Homo sapiens: one gene and its partners. The protein of the gene in region 2 binds, or shares a complex with, the protein of the main gene of each other region. Links are inferred from orthologs where the notes say so. Each region holds a gene or a part of one and is shown on either strand. Other genes may lie near its edges.

The links.
Region 1: the proteins of ODAD1 (region 2) and ODAD3 are in contact, whole or in part, in a cryo-EM structure (PDB 9CPB), measured with the Bos taurus proteins. The link is inferred for Homo sapiens from one-to-one orthologs. Residues at the interface, in XP_024834988.1 of Bos taurus: Leu31, Gln32, Gln34, Cys35, Met38, Glu41, Arg42, Tyr45, Val49, Arg52, Ile53, Gln56, Leu57, Glu59, Ile60, Leu63, Glu64, Val66, Arg67, Leu70, Arg71, Gln73, Ile74, Ala77, Gln78, Asp86, Arg89, Leu90, Ser92, Met93; in NP_001095517.1 of Bos taurus: Gln69, Leu73, Lys76, Ile77, Leu79, Leu80, Asp83, Arg84, Phe87, Tyr88, Thr91, Asn94, Ile95, Asn98, Gln99, Thr101, Ile102, Leu105, Arg106, Glu108, Thr109, Leu112, Gln113, Gln115, Leu116, Leu119, Gly122, Asp123, Val126, Ala129.
Region 3: ODAD1 (region 2) and CLXN share a complex: the UniProt entries of both Homo sapiens proteins name them as parts of the outer dynein arm-docking complex.

Annotation. Positions count from the first base shown.
Region 1 is NC_000019.10:11,420,105-11,425,161, forward strand, and holds the end of ODAD3 (outer dynein arm-docking complex subunit 3), read right to left. Parts: intron 3,926-5,057; coding exon 3,773-3,925; intron 2,758-3,772; coding exon 2,597-2,757; intron 2,524-2,596; coding exon 2,367-2,523; intron 1,729-2,366; coding exon 1,573-1,728; intron 1,109-1,572; coding exon 1,024-1,108; intron 844-1,023; coding exon 731-843; 3' UTR 501-730; downstream 1-500. UniProt on the Homo sapiens protein: Component of the outer dynein arm-docking complex (ODA-DC) that mediates outer dynein arms (ODA) binding onto the doublet microtubule. Involved in mediating assembly of both ODAs and their axonemal docking complex onto ciliary microtubules.
Region 2 is NC_000019.10:48,297,972-48,305,011, forward strand, and holds part of ODAD1 (outer dynein arm-docking complex subunit 1), read right to left. Parts: intron 6,170-7,040; coding exon 5,982-6,169; intron 5,814-5,981; coding exon 5,679-5,813; intron 5,125-5,678; coding exon 5,042-5,124; intron 4,892-5,041; coding exon 4,723-4,891; intron 370-4,722; coding exon 206-369; intron 127-205; coding exon 29-126; intron 1-28. UniProt on the Homo sapiens protein: Component of the outer dynein arm-docking complex (ODA-DC) that mediates outer dynein arms (ODA) binding onto the doublet microtubule. Involved in mediating assembly of both ODAs and their axonemal docking complex onto ciliary microtubules.
Region 3 is NC_000008.11:48,725,269-48,732,308, forward strand, and holds part of CLXN (calaxin), read right to left. Parts: intron 6,236-7,040; coding exon 6,080-6,235; intron 5,377-6,079; coding exon 5,272-5,376; intron 4,604-5,271; coding exon 4,452-4,603; intron 3,879-4,451; coding exon 3,774-3,878; intron 1-3,773. UniProt on the Homo sapiens protein: Component of the outer dynein arm-docking complex (ODA-DC) that mediates outer dynein arms (ODA) binding onto the doublet microtubule. Seems to regulate the assembly of both ODAs and their axonemal docking complex onto ciliary microtubules.

The DNA.
Region 1 (5,057 bases), about 37 Mb from region 2:
GGGACTACAGGCATATGCCACCATGCTCAGCTTTTTTTTTTTTTTTTTTTTTTTTTTTTTTTTTTTTGGTAAAAACTGGTTTTCACCATGTTGCCCAGGCTAGTCTGGAACCCCTGGGCTCAAGCGACACACCCAGCTCAGCCTCCCAAAGTGCTGGGAATATAGGTATGAATGAGCCACTGCACCCCGCCCTTATTTTATTTATTGAGACAGGGTCTGGCTCTGTGGCCCAGGCTGGAGTGCAGTAGCACGATCATAGCTCACTGCAGCCTGGAGCTCCTGGACTCAAGTGATCCTCCCAACTCAGCCTCCCAAAATACTGGGATTACAGGCATAAAACCACTACATCGGGCCATCTCCCATTTTTAAGCTCCATCTGCGTCACTAGCTGATGGGAGTCATCATGACCCAGGTTGGAGGAGGCAGTCTGTGGCCCTGGGTTTTCAGGGACAGCCGTCTCTTGGGTGGTGCAGGGTCAAAAACAGATGAATACCCAGGGGCATGGTCGGTAACATTTATTGCGCAACTCTGAGGCCGGGGCGGACCCAGCTGGGGAGATTTACTGTGGGAACGTCTGGCCCGGCCCCTTCCTCCCCTCCGGGCGCCGCTGGCCGCCTCCGTTCCCGGTCCGGGCCGCGTTCAGCCCCTGAAGGGGCCCCGTGGGGCCTGCGCTAGACCCGGAGGGATCGGGGGCTCCGAAGGGGGCCGCCTGGTGGGTGTCAGGACGAGTCTAGGACCTCCGAGAGCGACGGTGCTTCTTGTGACTTTCGATTAATTTCTGGGAACGGATCTTGAGTGATGCGCGGGTCACTACCTCGTTGTCCTCCTCCTCACTCTCTTCGTCTAAGGGGGGTGGGGGGATGAGCAGGGAGCGATGTGGGATCCAGGTCCCCATCCCTGGCTCCCCTTCCCTTTACCACCCCACTCCACCCCCACCTTGGCCCTGAACAGGGTATCTGACAACCTCCTGCTACCCAGCTTGGGGCCCCAACCGCACCCCTTCATCCCCCCACCCATACTGACCAAAAAACTTGTCCTTGGAAGTGGCAAGGGGCAGGGCGATGCGGGTGTTGTATTCGGGCAGCCTTCCCTCTAAGCTGGCGAGGAACTAAGCGGGGATGGGAAGCGAGAGAGGAAGGTGGGCGGGGCCAGGGGCCACCGAGAAGTCACGTTCCCCCTCCTCCCTACCCCATTCCGAGATATGCCCTAGTTCCAACTGGAGACCACTGCCCACTCCCATCCCTCCTTAAGCAGGCACCTTGATACCCAGCTTCACCCCCTCATCACTCAGGTCCGCCCCTGGTCTCTGGGGCCCTGCCACTAGGCCTCTCCCCATCCGGATACCCCAGCCGCGTCCTCTAGCCTCACAGGACCCGCCTGCACCTCTTCTGGTTTCTTCCCTCGTGGCTCGGGCTCACCCCTGGCTCGTCAAACCTCGCCCGTTGTCCCCGAGACCCCTTCCTGGCTGATCAGCCTGCAATCTGGTCTCCCGAAGTTGCCCCCGGTTCCCTGGTTTTCCGACCCAGCCCTACTCCTAGATCTCTGGAGCTCTGCCCCATGGCTGCAGGGCACCTCGCGGTTAGCGATGTGGCACAGCATCTCCTGCACGTCGTGGCCCTGGAGCTGCGCCTGCAGTTTCAGCAGCTTTTCCTCCACGAGGCCCAGCAGGTTTGGCACATAGTTATCTGCCTGGGGATCCAGCTCCTTTCCCGCGAAGCGGCCGTCCTCCTGCGGCCAGGGTAGAGCCGGGTCAGCCGAGAGGGGTGGGGCCTCTTGGAAGGCTCCACCCAGGGGCGGGGCTTTTCTTTCGGGGGCGGGGCCTAGGAGGTAAGGGCCCACCTGCAGGGTCGATCCTAGCCATTGGGGGCGGGGACTTAGGTCAAGGCCACGTCTGTGATGGGGGAGCCTCTGAACTCTAACTCTATATGTAAAGGTTTCGGGGAGGCCTCTTGGGAACAGTAAGGATTCGAGGGAGGCCATTGTGGGATGGCCTCCTGAAGAAATGGCCCTCTGCTGCGGGCAGGATAGGTCTTCTGTCTCGGGCTGCTCCAGAACTGCAGATAGGTCTCCGAGCTTTTCGGGGACAGGGTGGGACTTCTTTCCCTTGGAGGCGGAGCTTGAGACGGGACAGGGTCTCTGACGTCTTGGGCTTCCTTGGGGAGTGAGAGCTTCCCCAGGGAGGTGGGGCGGGGACTCTGAGGAATGGGGTGGGGCTTCCCCTGTGGGCGGGGCCTCTGACGTCCGGGACAGAGGATGTGGCAGGCCACGTTCCCTCGGGCAAGCTGGTGTGGCAGGAACCCCGCTTCGTGGCTGCGCCTCTGCGGTCCCAGGAGGGCCTGTCGGGGCTTCCCCTGGGCGGGGCCTACCACAGTGATGTGGATCAGCTTGCTGGCCAGGTGCTCCAGGCTGTCCTTGGCCACTTGCATCGCCCGCAAGGCGCGCTCCAGCTGGTCCTTGGCCTCGGCGTGCCGCCGCTCCTCCTTCTTGAGACGCTCCTGCGCCTCGGCTTGCAGTTTCTGCTGGCTGCAGGGAGCCGGGAGGTCACCCCGGGGGCTCAGCCCGCCCCGCCGCCCTCCCCAGAGCCCCGGTGCCTCACCTCACCAGCGTGGCCTCCCCCGAGTACTTGAGGTCTTCCAGCTCCCGCTGCAGTTGTTGCTTCTCCTGCTTCAGCCTCACCAACGTCTGCTCGTTCTCGCTCTTGAGCGTCTCCAACTGCGCGAAGGTGTCGCCCTGGGCCAGGAACCGCCGCACCAACGACTGCGGGCCACCCAGCCCCAGTCAGAGCCAGGGCCTAGGGAGCGTAGGGGCGCTCCACCTCCTCTCCCCCACCCTGCGAACCCTCGCACGCAGGACAGGTGGCCTGAGCTGGCGCCTTTTGCACAGCAATGTATGGGGACACTGTGGGTTGGACGCAGGGTTGCTTCAAGGGTGAGCAGCCCTGGATATATCATTTTTGCGGGGCCCTTTCTGGCCTATATAAGGAATTTGAGTCAGCCCAAACTCGGGGGCAACTGGAGAGGCGAGCATAGCTTCTTTCCAAAATCAAAGTGCCATCAATTTCTGGCCGTGAATCTCGCCCGATTCCGCAGGAAATACCGCCCGTCTTCGGAGCCATCCGCTCACAAGGCCCACATCTGGAAAGGGGCTGCGCCTCAGTGCCCCAGATGACCCCATAGGTGTACTCCTATAGGTGGGAGTCCCGGAAGTCATCAGGGGTCGGCCCCATCGGAGGAGCAGCAGGTTGGCGGACACCCAGAGGGGAGAAACAGGGTTGGGGTCCAGTGTTCACCGGCGGGAACCAGGACCCAAGGGGGACACAGCGGTCTTAGAATAATGCAAGGAAGACTTTACAGTGAGGGACCCGGCGCAGGGACCCCACTTGCCAGGATCTGAGGATGGTACTGGGCGGTCCACTGGGTCCCAGACCATGTTACAGACACTGGAGACAGAACAAGAGACGAAACTCCCAGTTCTCCTAGAGCTGGCATGGCAAAGGAGTTAGCATGGTGCAAGAGAGAACGGAAGGCGAGTGTAGAAATGACGGCGAGTGTAGACAGCTCCTAGGGGTTTTGCTGCGAAGGGCAGCAGAAAAACTGAACGGTAGCTGGAGGGGGAAGGGATGTTTTTCAAGAAAGGAGCAGGTTTGTGAGCTGAATAACCGACCTGGCAGAGAGGGGAGACAGGGTGTGTCGGTTTCACCGGCTTAGGCACCCCTGGGGCCCGTCTGGGGTGGGGGGGGGGCGCGGCGGAGAGGGCTGCGGGCAGAACTCACGTGCGTCTCGTCAGTGCCAGTGGCGTCCTTGACCTTGCCAAAGATCACCTCCATCTGGTACATGCTCCAGCGCTGCCGCAGCTCCTCCTCCTTGGCATGCAGGCTGTCCTGGATGGTGTCGTCGGACTGTAGCAGCAGGTGCTCGCGGTGGGTCTGCTCGTGGGTTGAGGTCAGAGCCAGGGTCAGCTGGTGGACAGCGCTTGGGAAGGAGGCCGGGGAGGGGGATCCAGATAGGGGCCCGCGAGGAACAGGGCTCAAACTGGAGGGAAGGGAGAGGGCAAAAGCTTGGGGCCAGATAAAGGCACCCGGGCAGGTGTCAAGAAAGTGGGACAAGGTCGGGCGCGGGGGCGGTGGCTGTGGCTCACGCCTTTAATTCCAGTACTTTAGGAGGCTGAGGCGGGAGGATTGTTTGAGCCCAGGGGTTCGGGACCAGCTTGGACAACACGGCGAGACCCCGTCTCTACAAAAAACACCAAAATTAGCAGGGCGTGGTGGGGCGCCTGAAGTCCCAGCTACTTGGGAGGCTGAGGTGAGAGGATCACTTGAGCCCAGGAGGTCGAGACTGCAGTGAGCTATAATTAGTCTGAGCGACAGAGACCGTGTCTCAAAAAAAAATCCATATATATATGTATATATGTATATATATGTATATATGTATATATGTGTATATATACCTATGTGTATATATGTATATATGTGTATATATACCTATGTGTATAAATATATATGTGTATATATACCTATGTGTATATATGTATATATGTGTATATATACCTATGTGTATATATGTATATATGTGTATATATACCTATGTGTATATATGTATATATGTGTATATATACCTATGTGTATATATGTATATATGTGTATATATACCTATGTGTATATATGTATATATGTGTATATATACCTATGTGTATATATGTATATATGTGTATATATACCTATGTGTATATATGTATATATGTGTATATATACCTATGTGTATATATGTATATATGTGTATATATACCTATGTGTATATATGTATATATGTGTATATGTACCTATGTGTATATATGTATATATGTGTATATGTACATATGTGTATATATGTATATATGTGTATATGTACATATGTGTATATGTATATATGTGTATATATACATATGTGCATATATACATATGTGTATATATGTGTATATGTGTATATATGTATATGTGTATATGTACATATGTGTATATATGTATATATGTGTATATGTACATATGTGTATATGTGTATATGTACATATGTATATATACA
Region 2 (7,040 bases):
TCTGCGTCCCTCCTGCCCTGCGCCTCACAGAGTGTCAGGGGGCTGAAGTGGGGCCATCTTCTTCGGAAGGTCCTCCAGGCTCTGGCCCAGCACTAGGAGGGCAGCGTCGGCCAGGGAGGTGAAGCTCTGGAGAGTGTGGGAGCCTGCGGTCAGCTGGGCCACCCCCGAGACCGGCCTCCTGTCCCGGCTCCCTGCCGTCTCCCACCTGGGCATGTAGGAAGGCCTGCACTGTCAGGAGCTCCACCAGCCGCTTCTCAATGAGGCTCAGGAAGAGGCCCATGTCCCGGTCTCCCATGCTGGTCTTGACCCCAAGGAGGTCATCGATCATGCTGCTGTCGCAATGGGCCTTGGTGAAGAGGAGCTGGATATCTGCGTCATGGAGGGCCGGTTGTCAGGGATCTGGCACCGCCAGCTGGGTGCCAGCCCTCTCCCCACTCAGGTCCTCACTGCCCCATTCTACAGAGACTGCGGTCAAGGCTCAGAGACCAAAAGGGAGTCACCCGAGCTCAGCCAGCCAGGCAGGGGGACGGCACTGCTGTGCATCCCTCTCTCCCTGACTTGTCCTTCAAAGTCAGCCTCAAGTGTCACTGCCTCCAGGAAGCCTTCCCAGTGACCCCAGCAGAGCCAGCCTCATGAGTGTGAGATCCAGGCAGTGGTGAGGGGCCTGCACTTGGCTTGACACGCTGCTGCTCTTCCTATCTTGAAAATCTCAGCAATTTTTTAACAAGGGGCCCCTCATTCTGCACTGGGCCCCACAAATTATGGTCTTGCACCCCAGACTGAGTTAGGGCCTTCTCTCGCCCCCAGTGCCTGGGCGTCCTCTGTCCTAGCCCCTGAGTGATGAGTGCCCAGTGCGCAGGTCAGTCCCCTCCAGGGCCTCTCCCCACTGTGCCCACATCACCTAGCACAGGGCTCGGATCAGCCATCACGACAGCAGGAAGGAGGACCTGCCCATATCTGAGCTCCTACGGTATGCCCCGAGGAGGCTCTCCAGCTCGCTCCCCACCACCCCCCACCTTTCTCTCCATCCGTCATCCCTTCTAATTCTCATGACAACCCTGCAAAGTAGGCACTGCCATCCCCATTCCCAGAGCGGAAGGAGGAAGCCACACACCAAGGTTCACAATTGGTGGAGCTGAGATTCAAACCCAGGACAGGCTGGGTGCAGTGGCTCACGCCTGTAATCCAGCACTTTGGGAAGCCAAGGCAGGCAGATCATTTGAGGTCAGGAGTTTGAGACCAGCCTGGCCACCATGGTGAAACCCTGTCTCTACTAAAAATACAAAAAAACTAGCCGGGCATGGTAGTGCAGGCCTGTAATCCCAGTTACTGGAGAGGCTGAGGCAGGAGAATTGCTTGAACCCGGGAGATGGACGTTGCAGTAAGCCCAGATCACACCACTGCTCTCCAGCCTGGCTGACAGCGTGAGATTCCATCTCAAAAAAACAAATAAAAGCTAACAATAAATGTTTTAAAAAAGAGAAAAGAAACAGGACAGCCTGACTCCTGAGTGCTCTGCATGGCTACTTCCTGAAAAATAAGAAAGATGAGGCCCGGCGCAGTGGCTCACACCTGTAATCCCAGCACTTTGGGAAGCCAAGGCGGGTGGATCACCTCAAGTCAGGAGTTTGAGACCAGCCTGACCAACATGGCAAAACCCCCCTCCACTAAAAATACAAAAATTAGCTGGGTGTGGTGGTGTGTGCCTGTAATCCCAGCTACTGGGAGGCTGAGGCAGGAGAATCGCTTGAACCAGGAGGGGGAGATTGCAGTGAGCCGAGATCGTGCCACTGCACTCCAACCTGGGGAACAGAGCGAGACTTTCTCAAATTTTAAAAAATAATAATAATAATAGAAAAAAAGGATGCACAGGTGGATGCAACATACCCACAGAAGGGATTAAAAAAAAAAAAAAGAAACTCAGCCAGGAGTGGTGGCTCATGCCTATAATCCCAGCACTTTGGGAGTCCAAGACAGGAGGATCACTTGAGTCCAGGAGTTCAAGACTAGCCTGGACAACATAGTAAAATCCTATCTCTAAAAAAAAAAAGGGCCGGGCACAGTGGCTCATGCATATGTAATCCCAGCACTTTGGGATACTGAGGCGGGCAGATCACCTGAGGTCAGGAGTTTGAGACCAGCCTGCCAACATGGCGAAACCCCGTCTCTACTAAAAATACCAAAATTAGTTGGGCGTGGTGGCGGGCACCTGTAATCCCAGCAACTCAGGAGGCTGAGGCAGAACTGCTTGAACCTGGGTGGCAGAGGTTGCAGTGAGCCGAGATTGTGCCACTGCACTCCAGCCTGGGCAAAAGAGCGAAATTCCTCTCAAAAAATAAATAAATGAAAAAAATCTAAAAAAATTTTTAAAAAGGAAACTCTAGACCCCTACCTCATACCATAATGCAAATCAATTTGTCATAAGTCACAGACTTCAATGTGGGAGTTCAAACAATGAAACTTCTAGGAGAAAACACAGCATAATGCCTTTGTAACCTCAGGACAGGCAAAAATTTCTTAGGCAGGCCACAAAGTCATTAACTACAAAAAGAAAATTTCATAAATTAGATATCCTCAAAACTAAGAAACTTCAGTTCATCACCAAAAAAAATGAAAAGGCAAGCTACAGTATAAGAGAAAATATTTACCAAAAGTCTAGTATCTAGAATATACAAAGAACTCCTTCAACTCAGTTATAGCAAGACAAACCCAATTTTTAAAAAAACAAGTGCACAAGATTGAACAGGAACTTTACAAAAACATCTGAATGGCCAATACGATGCTCAATATTATTAGTCACCAGGGAAATGCCAATTAAATTAATAGAGAGAGTACGGCACACACGTTAGATGGCTAATATTAAAATGGCTGACGGCCAGGCACGGGGGCTCACGCCTGTAATCCCAGCACTTTGGGAGGCCGAGGCGGGCAGATCACGAGGTCAAGAGATCGAGACCATCCTAGCCAACGTGATGAAACCCCGACTCTACTAAAAATACAAAAATTAGCTGGGCGTGGTGGCGCACACCTGTAGTCCCAGCTACTGGAGAGGCTGAGGCAGGAGAATCGCTTGAACCCAGGAAGCGGAGGTTGCAGTGAGCCGAGATCATGCCATTGCACTCCAGCCTGGTGACAGAGCAAGACTGCATCTCAAAAACAAAACAAGATAAAAAATGGCTGACACTAGGAAGTGGTGGAAAAGGTGTGGATCATCGGGGACTCCCATATGCTCGCATAGGTGAGAGCATAAAATCTTGCGACCAGTGTGGAAAACTGTTCGGCATTTTCTAATAAATATCAACATATACCTACCCTAAGACCCATCGGTCCCACTGCTAGGCATTTATAGACAGAGATGTACATGGATGATCCATGGATGAATACTGGGTAGATGGATGGATGGGTGGATGATGGATATGGGACAGTTGGAGGGACAGCATCTGTTTTTTAGTGTTTTGTGAAACAAGTGGAATAATGCATAAGTGCCTTGCACAGTGAATGACACATAATAAACATTGCTATTATATTTTATCATCATTTTCTTTACAAATAATAACATTTTTGGTAACTAAGACTAAGAAGAAATTTGGTAACTAAGACTAAGAAGAAATTTGGTAACTAAGACTAAGACTAGGAAGACAAAAGTCAAATGTCATTGCAGATAGATGGATGAACAGATGGATGTGGGGCTGTTGGAGGCAGATGGACAGATAGACAATGGATGGATTGATGGACATGGGACAGATGGAGGGATAGACCCTGGATGGATGGATGGACATGGGACAGTTGGAGGGATAGACCCTGCATGGATGGATGGACATGGGACAGTTGGAGGAATAGATCCTGGATGGATGGATGGATGGATGGATGGATGGATGGATGGATGGATGGATATACGGACAGATGGATATAGGACAGATGAAGGGGTAGATCCTGGATGGATAGATATGGGACAGATGAAGGAATAGACCCTGGATAGATAGATGGATATGGGACAGATGGAGGTATAGAACCTGGATGGAGAGATAGATATAGGACAGATGAAGGAATAGATCCTGGATGAATGATGGATACAGGACAGTTGGAGGAATAGACCCTGGATGGATGGATGGATGGGTGGATGAATGGATGGATGGATGGATGAATGGATGGATGGATATAGGACAGATGGAGGGGTAGGTCCTGGATGGGTAGATAGATATAGAACAGATGAAGGAACAGACCCTGGATAGATAGATGGATATGGGACAGAATGGAGGGATAGACCCTGGATGGAGAGATAGATATAGGACAGATGAAGGAATAGATCCTGAATGGATGATGGATATAGGACAGTTGAAGGGATAGACTCTGAATGGATGGATGGATATAGGATAATTGGAGAGACAGACGTTGAATGGATGGATGGATGGATGGATGGATGGATGGATGGATGGATGGATATGGGACAGTTGGAGGGATCAACCCTAGATGGATGGATGGATGCATTGATAGATGGATGGATGGATGGGTGTAGGACAGTTGGAGGGACAGATGATGGATGGATAGATGGACATGGGACAGTTGGAGGGATAGACCCTGGTTGGAAAGATGGACAGATATGGGGCAACTGATAAGCAAGTGAACCAGGTTGTCCATGCAATGCCTCCAAGCCCCGCGGGCTGATGGTGTCCTTCCAAGTGGAGAAGCCAGGCTCGGGAGGGGGCGCCCATGGGTGCTCACCAGCCTTGAGCTTCTCCAGCTGTCCCCGCACATCCTGGAAGCGGGCCTCAAGGCGCTCAGCCTCCGAGTGCACCTTGTCCATGCGCTGCTGCAACACCTTCTGCTGCTGCTCCTGCAGCAAATGCTGGTCATCCTTGCTGGCACGTGCGCTCACCAAAGCCTCCTGCATCTGTGGGGACAGGGCTGAATGCTGGGCCAGATGGCAGCCTCGGGAGTTGGGGGTGTGGAGCTAGGAAGAAGCAGGAGGCAGGCTGAGGGAGGGAAGGGGGCGGGGAGGCCGGGAGGAGAGGAGGAGATGGAGAGGGCAGGCCTCACTCACCTCCTTGATCTCTTCCTGCACATGCTCCAGCTCCAAGTTCTGCTCGTTGATGAAGTTGAACTCAGCAAAGTTGCGCTCCTCGACTGGGAGAGTTGGGCAAGGCGGGGCCCAGAGAGAGGGAGACAGAGAAACAGAGACAGAGAGAACAGAGACAGAGAGGCATACAGAAGGCCAAAGAAAGTGAAGATGAGGAAGGCCACACAGAAACCAAGGCAGAGAGACGAACAGAGAGGAGTCACAGAGACAAAGAGGTGTGGGAAGATACGGCAGGTGGGACACAGAAATACACAGCAAGGCAGAGAGGGAAAGCCAGAGACTCGGCAATAGCAAGGGAGATGGGGAGATGCAGGCGGGGAGAACGGTAGATATGGGTAAGGAGAGAAACAGAGAGGGACAGGGTTGAGGGAAGGATGTGGAGAGTGACCCCAGGCCCAGGAGTTAGGAGGGGGTGGGGAGGGGCAGAGACAGGGCCACGGTAAGACGCCAGTGGACGCGGGCGGCGGGTCCCAGGCATGACGCCTTGTTCCTCCAGCACAGATGGAGGAGTTCCCCAGGGCCAGAGCTGAGGCCAGCCTGCACTGGACTCAGGGGGTGCCGGGGTCCCGGGCCTCCTCCCTCCACCCAGGGCCCCACTCACTCTCCAGATACTTCTGCACCAACAGGTCAGGGTCACTCTCCCCCATCAGCTGGGACAGTTTATTCAGGGCGTCCTCGTAGCAAAGCACCAGCCTCTCCTGGGAGGTCTTCCAGACGCCCTCGGCCACCTCCCCGGCTAGGGGAAGAGAGAACAGCAGGTCGGCCTCCTGGGTGGCCTCCAACACAGAGACCTCCTGGGTGAGGGGGAGCGAAGTGTGGTCCCACCTGGGGCACGAAGGTGTGCTGCAGGTGCCCCAGGGGCGGCCAGGCCCTTGAGATGCAAAGGCAGCAGCCCCAGCCTCACCCTGCTTTTCACGCTTCTCCAGGACATCGGGATCCGGCTGCCGGTCGTTGTTCTTGAGCTTGAGGAAGTGGTGCAGCTGCTCCAGGTGCAAGATCTGCCGCTGCAGGACCTGCGCCTCCATCTCGCTCTGGGCCTCCTCTTTCTCCGCGCGCTCCCGCAGCAAGCCCATCTTGGCCTTCGCCTCCTCCCTGCGGGGGTCAGCCGGGGTCAGGATGACTGGAGGCTGGACTGGGGTCGGCCTGGGGTCCTGGGGATGGGCGGGGTCAGCCAGAGGTTGTGGGGGGTGAGGTGGAGTCAGCTGGTGTCCCAGATGGGCAGGGCCAGCCTGGGGTCACAGGAATGGGGCTGAATCAGGTTGCAGTTATCCTGTGGTCACAAAAAGCAGAGAACTGGCTGGGCACGGTGGCTCAGGCTGTAATCCCAGCACTTTGGGAGGCAGGAGGATCACCTGCAGTCAGGAGTTTGAAACCAGCCTGGCCAACATGGTGAAACTCCATCTCTACTAAAAATACAAAAATTAGCCAGACCTGGTGGTGCATGCCTGTAATCCCAACTACTTGGGAGGCTGAGGCAAGAGAATCGCTTGAACCTGGGAGGTGAAGATTGCAGTGAGCTGAGATCGCACCACTGCACTCCAGCCTGGGTGGCAAGAGCGAAACTGTCTCAAAAAAAAAAAAAAGACAGAAGCAAGAACTTCAAAAGAGTGCGACATCATATTAGAAACACAACACAAAACTCTCGGTGTGCTGCTGGCTCACGTTCTTTCAGCAGCCTGCTCTCCTCATCCTTCAGAGTGTACTGTCTCTCTCTAGGTAAACTCTCTGTTCTCTATTTGCCTTCAGTAAATTCTCTTTGTTGGCTAAATCAGTCTCTTGGCAGAATTCTTTCTCCCAAGTAAGACTAAAAAGCGAGGATTCCTGTACTTCCCGGTGGCAGGTAGTTTTCCTTTTGGAGTGATGGAAATATTTCAGATCTAGACAGAAGTGGTGCGGTTGCACGGCCCCGTGAATGTACTAAATGCTGCTACATTCTACGCTTTAAAATGGTGAATTTTGCCAC
Region 3 (7,040 bases), on a different chromosome or scaffold from region 2:
ATTCACAAGGTGGGAGGGTGACCTTGCAATAGCAGATTCAGGGGTAGATAGGAAGAAGTGATAGTAGTTAGATATTAAATCTGGACAATTCTTTCAAGAAGCTAGGTTTTAAGAAGGAAAGCCATTATATAAGAAACAGAAGTAATAAGTGTGAAATTAAGGTAAGTTCTCTCCTTTTCTTTCCTTCTTCCTCTCATTCTTTCATTTTGCTTTTCAGATGGGACAGTTTTGAATCTTTTAAAATTCTAATGGGAGCCAGGCATGGTGGCTCATGCCTGTAATCCCAGCACTTTAGGAAGCCGAGGCAAGCTGATCACTTGAGGTCGGGAGTTCGAGACCAGCCTGACCAACATGGAGAAACCACGTCTCTACTAAAAAATATAAAATTATCCGGGCGTGGTGGCGCATGCCTCTAATCCCAGCTAGTCGGGAGGCTGAGGCAGGAGAATCACTTGAACCTGGGAGGCGGAGGTTGCGGTGAGCCGAGATTGTGCCATTGCACTGCAGCCTGGGCAACAAGAGCAAAACTCCGTCTCAAAAATAAATAAATAAATAAATAAATAAATAAATAAATAATAAAATTCTAATCGGAAGGTTTCACTAGAGAGGGAAGAGATTGAAGATGTGGTATAAAGATAAAGGTAAATGAATGAAATAGCTCCTGAGGAGATGGAGAGATCCAGAGCTCCCCATCAGGCACTTCTGAGACCCACCCACCCACCTCACCATCCATCCACCTCATCCATTAATCCATCCACCCATCCATCTACCCACCCACCTACCTCGCCCATCCACCCACCTCACCCATCCATCCATCCATCCACCCATCCATCTACCCACCCACTCCATCCATCCATCCATCCATCCATCCATCCATCCATCCATCCACCCACCCACCCCATCCACCCATCCATCCACTCATCCATCCATCTATCTACCCACCCTCCCATTCACTTCATCCATCCATCCATCCATCCATCCAACCATCCATCATCTATCTATCCATCCATCCATCCATCCATCCACCCACCTATCCATCCATGTACCTACACAGCCATTCACCTCATCCATCCACCCATCCACCCACTCATCATTTCATCTGCCCATCCATCTATTCACCTACCTCACCCATCCATCTGCTCACCTCATCCATCCATCCACTCATCCATCTACCCACCCACCTACCTCACCCATCAATCCATCTCATCCATCCATTCATCCATCCATCCATCCATCCATCCATCCATCCAATCCATCCATCCACCCATCTATCCATCCATCTACCTACCCGCACATTCACCTCACCATCCATCCGTCCATCCACCCACCCACTCATCTTTTTATCTACCCATCCATCTACCCACCCACCCACCTCACCCATCCACCCACCTCATCCATCCATGCATCCATCCATCCATCCACCCATCCATCTACCCACACACCTACCTACCTCACCCATCCATCTACTCACCTCACCCATCCATCCATCCATCTACCCACTTACCCACCCACCTCACCCATCAACCCAGTTCATCATCCATCCATCCATCCATCCATCCATTGTCCATCCATGCATCCACCCATCTATCCATGCATCTATCAATCTATCTATCTATCTATCTATCTATCTATCTATCCACCCACCCATCCATTCACCCACCCACGCATCCAACCATCCATATAACCAATCACCCACTTCACCTATCCACCCACCTCATCCATCCACTCATCCATCCATCCATCCATCCATCCATCCATCCATCCATTCATCCATCCACACACCCATCCATCCATCTACCCACTCACCTCAACTATCCATTCATCCATTCACCCATTCACCCATCCATCTACCCACCCACACACCCACATCACCCATCCATCCTTCCATCCATCCATCCATCCACCCACCCACCCACCCATCCACCTCACCCATTCATCTATCCACTCATCCATCCATCCATCCATCCATCCATCCATCCATCCATCCATCTCTCATTACTAGACACACACCATGTGCTACACACAGGGTATGGGGAAACACAGTGAAACAAAGACTAAGTTCCTGGCCTCAGTGAGCTGACATGTACAAGGCGAGACAGATATACCTAGGTAATAAAAAGAGCTGCTAAGTAAAAGAAAGAAAGAAGGGCTGGGGGATGAACAGGGAAGATTGTTAAGATGGTCAAGACAGGGCTCTGTGAGGAAGTGGCATTGCAGCAGAGACTGGATGAAGTGAGAAAATGAGGCCCAGGAGGGTCTGGGGAAAGGGCTTCTGGACAGAGGCAGCAGCAAGTGCACAGGCATGGAGGAGGCACATGAGCCAGAGGCTGTGGCTCCAGCAGCAAGAGAGAAGGGAGATGATAGGACATGTGGGTGGAGAGAGGGAAATGGCCCACTGGGTCCACTTCAGAACCCTCTGGGGGGTTTTGAGCATGGGAGGGGCCTGGCAGCATTTGCATTTTAAACATACTGGACATTGTTGAGAAAAGTCAGTAGGGGATGACAGTGGAAGCCAGAAAGCTAACAATCTAGGCTAGGTAACATATAACAGTGGCTTAACTTAGAGTGGTGGCAAACAGATGTGAGGAGAAGAGGCTATATTCAAGGACATATTTTGGAGGTGTAGCTAACAGTGTTAAAAGAGAGAAATTAAAGATGGCCCCTAGGTTTTGACTGAACAACTGGGCGTATGTGGTTGCCACTTATTGAGATAGGGAAGACTGGGGGATGGGTGAGTTTTGGGGAAAAGTCAAAAATGTGTTGAGGAGATCTAAGTGGACATGTTGAGTAGGCGGCAGGAGACACATGCTAGGGCTGGGAAGAGTGATACTGTTTCTATATCACATCACACTGCCTGCCTCAATCTTCCAGGGATGCCTCATCACCTTCAAGACTAAATCTGAGCTCCAAGCTCCACAAGCTGTGCTTCTGCAGCCTCATCACCAGCCTCAGAGCACACCAAAACCTCGTCCAGTGCAGATGCATTTGCATCTCTTGTTCCATCTCTTTCTTTCTCTCTCTCTATCTCTCTCTGTCTCTCTTTTGTGCATACATCACCCATTGCTCAGATTATTTTTCCCCATCTGACCTGGCTATTTTGTCCTTTGAAAACCAGTTACTCTGATAAGCTTCCTGCCCTACCAGTCATTTACCAGTCCTCCCATACAGCTGTTTAGATGACCTCTTCTCAAGTTCCACAACACTCTACACATATCTCTATGACTCTGGCACCAGGGTACCCAGGGTATTCCACTAATAAGTGAGTAAACTTGGACAAGGTGCCTAAACTCTCCAAGCCTTGGTTTCCTCATCTGGAAAATGAGGCTAATATTACTACCTACTTCACAGGGTTATTATGAGGATTAAATGAGGCAATATGAGGCTTAGTGTTTACAACGTTGCCTGGCATTGATGAAGAACATACAAGTAATTAAGTATCATTATAATAATATGTATCATACTCTTGTGTAATTATTTTCACTGGAAAATATGAGCCCTTGAGTAAAATCACTGAGCCTTTCATCTGTGCTTCTGGCACACATTAAACCTCATTAATTGTTTCTGACATGAATGAGTTAATGAATGAAACACAGCACTGGGTCACACTAGTACCAAGAAATGAATCAGCAGGTTATTCAGTGGGCTTTCTGTATTTAAAAGGTATTCTTTCTTGGTGGACAGGATTTGTCTGATCCACTACCCATTAAATCAAGAAGTCCTGGGTTGTTCTACATTCTACTTTGATTACCGTTCAGGGAAAGTCATATCAATACCTTTGGATCAGGAAGACATGGCCCAAAGGCCTCCAGTAGAAGAGTCTCTTCTCTCACAGCCAGTTCATAGTCTGCAAAAGACAGCTTCCCATCATGGTCATGATCCTAGGGGAATGAGAAACATGTTAGGCAACACGTAAAATGATTACTGCAAATACATGCTCTTTTCATAGTCAAGTGTTAATTTAAAAAAATGTGCTAGGCTGGGGATGGTGGCTCAGGCCTGTAATCATAGCACTTTGGGAGGCTAAGGCGGGGTGATTCCTTGAGGCCAGAAGTTTGAGACCATACTGGGCAACATAGTGAGACCTCATCTCTATTAAAAAAAAAAATTAGCTGGGCATGGTGGTATGCGCCTGTAGTCCCAGATACTTGGGAGGCTGAGGCAGGAGAATTGCTTGAGCCCAAGAGTTTGATGATGCAGTGAGCTGTGATCATGCTACTGCACTCTAGTCTGGGAGACAGAGCGAGACCCTGTCTCAAAAAAAAAAAAAGTGCTAGAAAAATAAGAGGTTAGGTGGTGAAACTGAAAAGAACTATTAATATGTTGAGGAGCATAATTTATGTGTTTTATTTAAGCAAGCAGAGAACTGAAAATTATAATAATTTGAATTCTTATTTCTAGCCCATATCTGGCCCACAAATTTTAATAAAAAACTTGACATTACCCATATTTACCATTTTCTTCAGTGTTATTTCAACCAAATCTTTAATTCCTTCATCAGGGTCTTCCTCAGATGGCTGTTTGAGAAGGCTGTTCTTCAACATGTGAAACATTTCCTCCTTTGAAATGAATCCGTCACCATTCAAATCAAACACTTCAAAGCAATCTTTTTAAGAAAATAACAAATCATGAATTTGATGCTATCAGTAAGGTAATATTTTCTCTGATAAACTTTTCAGGGCCAAGTTCTATCTTGATGCTGTACCCACAGGTCTTAGTGCAGCCTGATTTGCATTGTAAGTGTCAACGTATACTAGGATATATACAATAATCCTTAGAAAATATTTCCTGATTCTCAATTATGAAAAAGCATACCAAGGAACAGTAACTTGAATATCTTCACCTTGAAACTCTTGGAAAACTGATTGAAATATGGCTCATAAGCAGAGTTCATCAGAATTAATTGAGAGTTAATTAAGAATAAGAACACTTGAATCAATATTCTCTAGTTTTATGGTTACAATTCAAGTAATGAAATCTGTCAAATGCTTAACATATAAATGTATATGTACATAATTAGCATATGTAGTAATGCCTATGGTGTCTTCCTTCGCATAAATTACTCCTCAGAATCACTTGAGTTTTCTTTTTATTAACTTTCTTTCATATTTTATTGACTTGAATTCATTCCATAAAATAGGTTAGTGGGATTCAAACCAACTAACCAGCCAACCAACAAACCCACTTTACTGTCTTGGTTGAAAGACACTGATTTAAGTGCTTTAGATATGTTATTCATAATGTACGAACCAATAGGACAACCTGCAATCTTACATTTCATTTTTTCTTCCAAAGATCCTCGAAGAAACAGTGATAATCCATGAATCCACTCCAATACATTTACACAGCCATCATTATCTTTATCAAAACCTCGGAATACTAAAGGGAGAGAGGTTAAATGGAACACCTGTCCTGCATAATAACTCTCAGTAAAGTATCTACATTGGCATCACTCACTTTTAAAATTAAGAGAACACTTCAGCTTGTGAAGTCCAATATTCTCATTTGACGAAAGAGGAAACTAAGACATCATAATATCATGAAACTCTTTTATTAAACATTCAATTTTTAAAATGTTTTTGTGGGAACAAATACAATTCTCAATGTCTAAGTATATTAATCATTATTTAATAATAAATATGTTGCTATAAAATATGTTGGTCATATTAGATAAATATATGAATATAAATAAAATACTTAATAGTTTTGTTACTCAAGTCATTACTTGATGCATAGAATTATATCTTGTCACTGAAATATCTTCTATGATGTAAAGAATGTAAATGTCCTTTTAAAACTATTCTATTTATTATGTTTATTAAGTGGAAATCGAAATGTTTTAGGTTTTCTGATATAAGGTAAGAGAAAGATGTCAACATGACTTTGTCTTCTTCTTAAATACACAAAATAAAGCCAATATTACCTCCTTTTCTATGATCTTCTCAAAATTAAATTTGTATATTCCAATGACACTGGGAATGCAAAACACTAAGCTTCCTACCAAGAGGATGTCCAAGCACCAAACCCTTTTTTTTTCAGTTATGGCTGGATTTGGCTAATTTGAATCTTGTGTGTCTCTTACCTCTGTCCATAATCATGTCATCTGTCATTCCAAATGTCACATGCAGGATGTTTCGAAATGCATTACGATCCAGTCCAACAACCAGACCTTGCCTCTCTACTCCTCCCACCAAGTCATAAAAAAGCTTTATAAGACAGTTCACTTCAAATTTATTAACTGAAATAATAAAATAGATATAACAAAAATGAACCCTTAATCTTTAAGTTCTAACTTAAATTTTGCAATAAGTTTACAGACAAACAACGTCAAAGACATCAAATAGGTAATTGTCAATAGAAGACTCTCCTGTTTTGAGATTCATGAACCCTTAACTTAATAGAAATAAAAAAAGCAGCATACCCTCCAAACAGGAATTCCCATGTTTAGGGAAAAAAATACGATAGTATTAGCCAAGTTACTAGAATAATGATGGTGGTGTCGGATTCTAAACTCTACAAGGCTAGTAGAAATACGTCTCAAAATAAGAATGGTAAGACTAAAGAATGGTAACTTTTTCTCAGTATTTTTACCATGGCATTTACGAGATTTACAACTTCTTTTCCCTGGAAATAGATGTCAGATTCATGAGAATTAGGTAACAATTTTCATTTCAGTTTAGCCTTCATTAATTCATAAGCCAGATTTTGGAAACTAGAGTCACCAGTTTTCCAATAAAAAAGCTTTAAAGCATATTTTAGCACCCAATATGGCTCTTCTTGAGGATTACGTAAAAATTAACATGCAACTATTCAGTAATAGTTTGGAGGAAGGAAATTTTTATTTAAAGGATATACACACAAACAGATACTTGCTCATACACATTATTGTATAAAGGACCATGGTTATAAATACCGAGTTAATTATTTGTGTTCCAATCCCCATTTGAGAATGTAGGTGGAAGGGTTATTGCCTGGTCTTGATAATATAAAAGCTCAAATACCAAGTATGGGCGGAAGTTGGGGAAAATTTATTTTGAAACCAG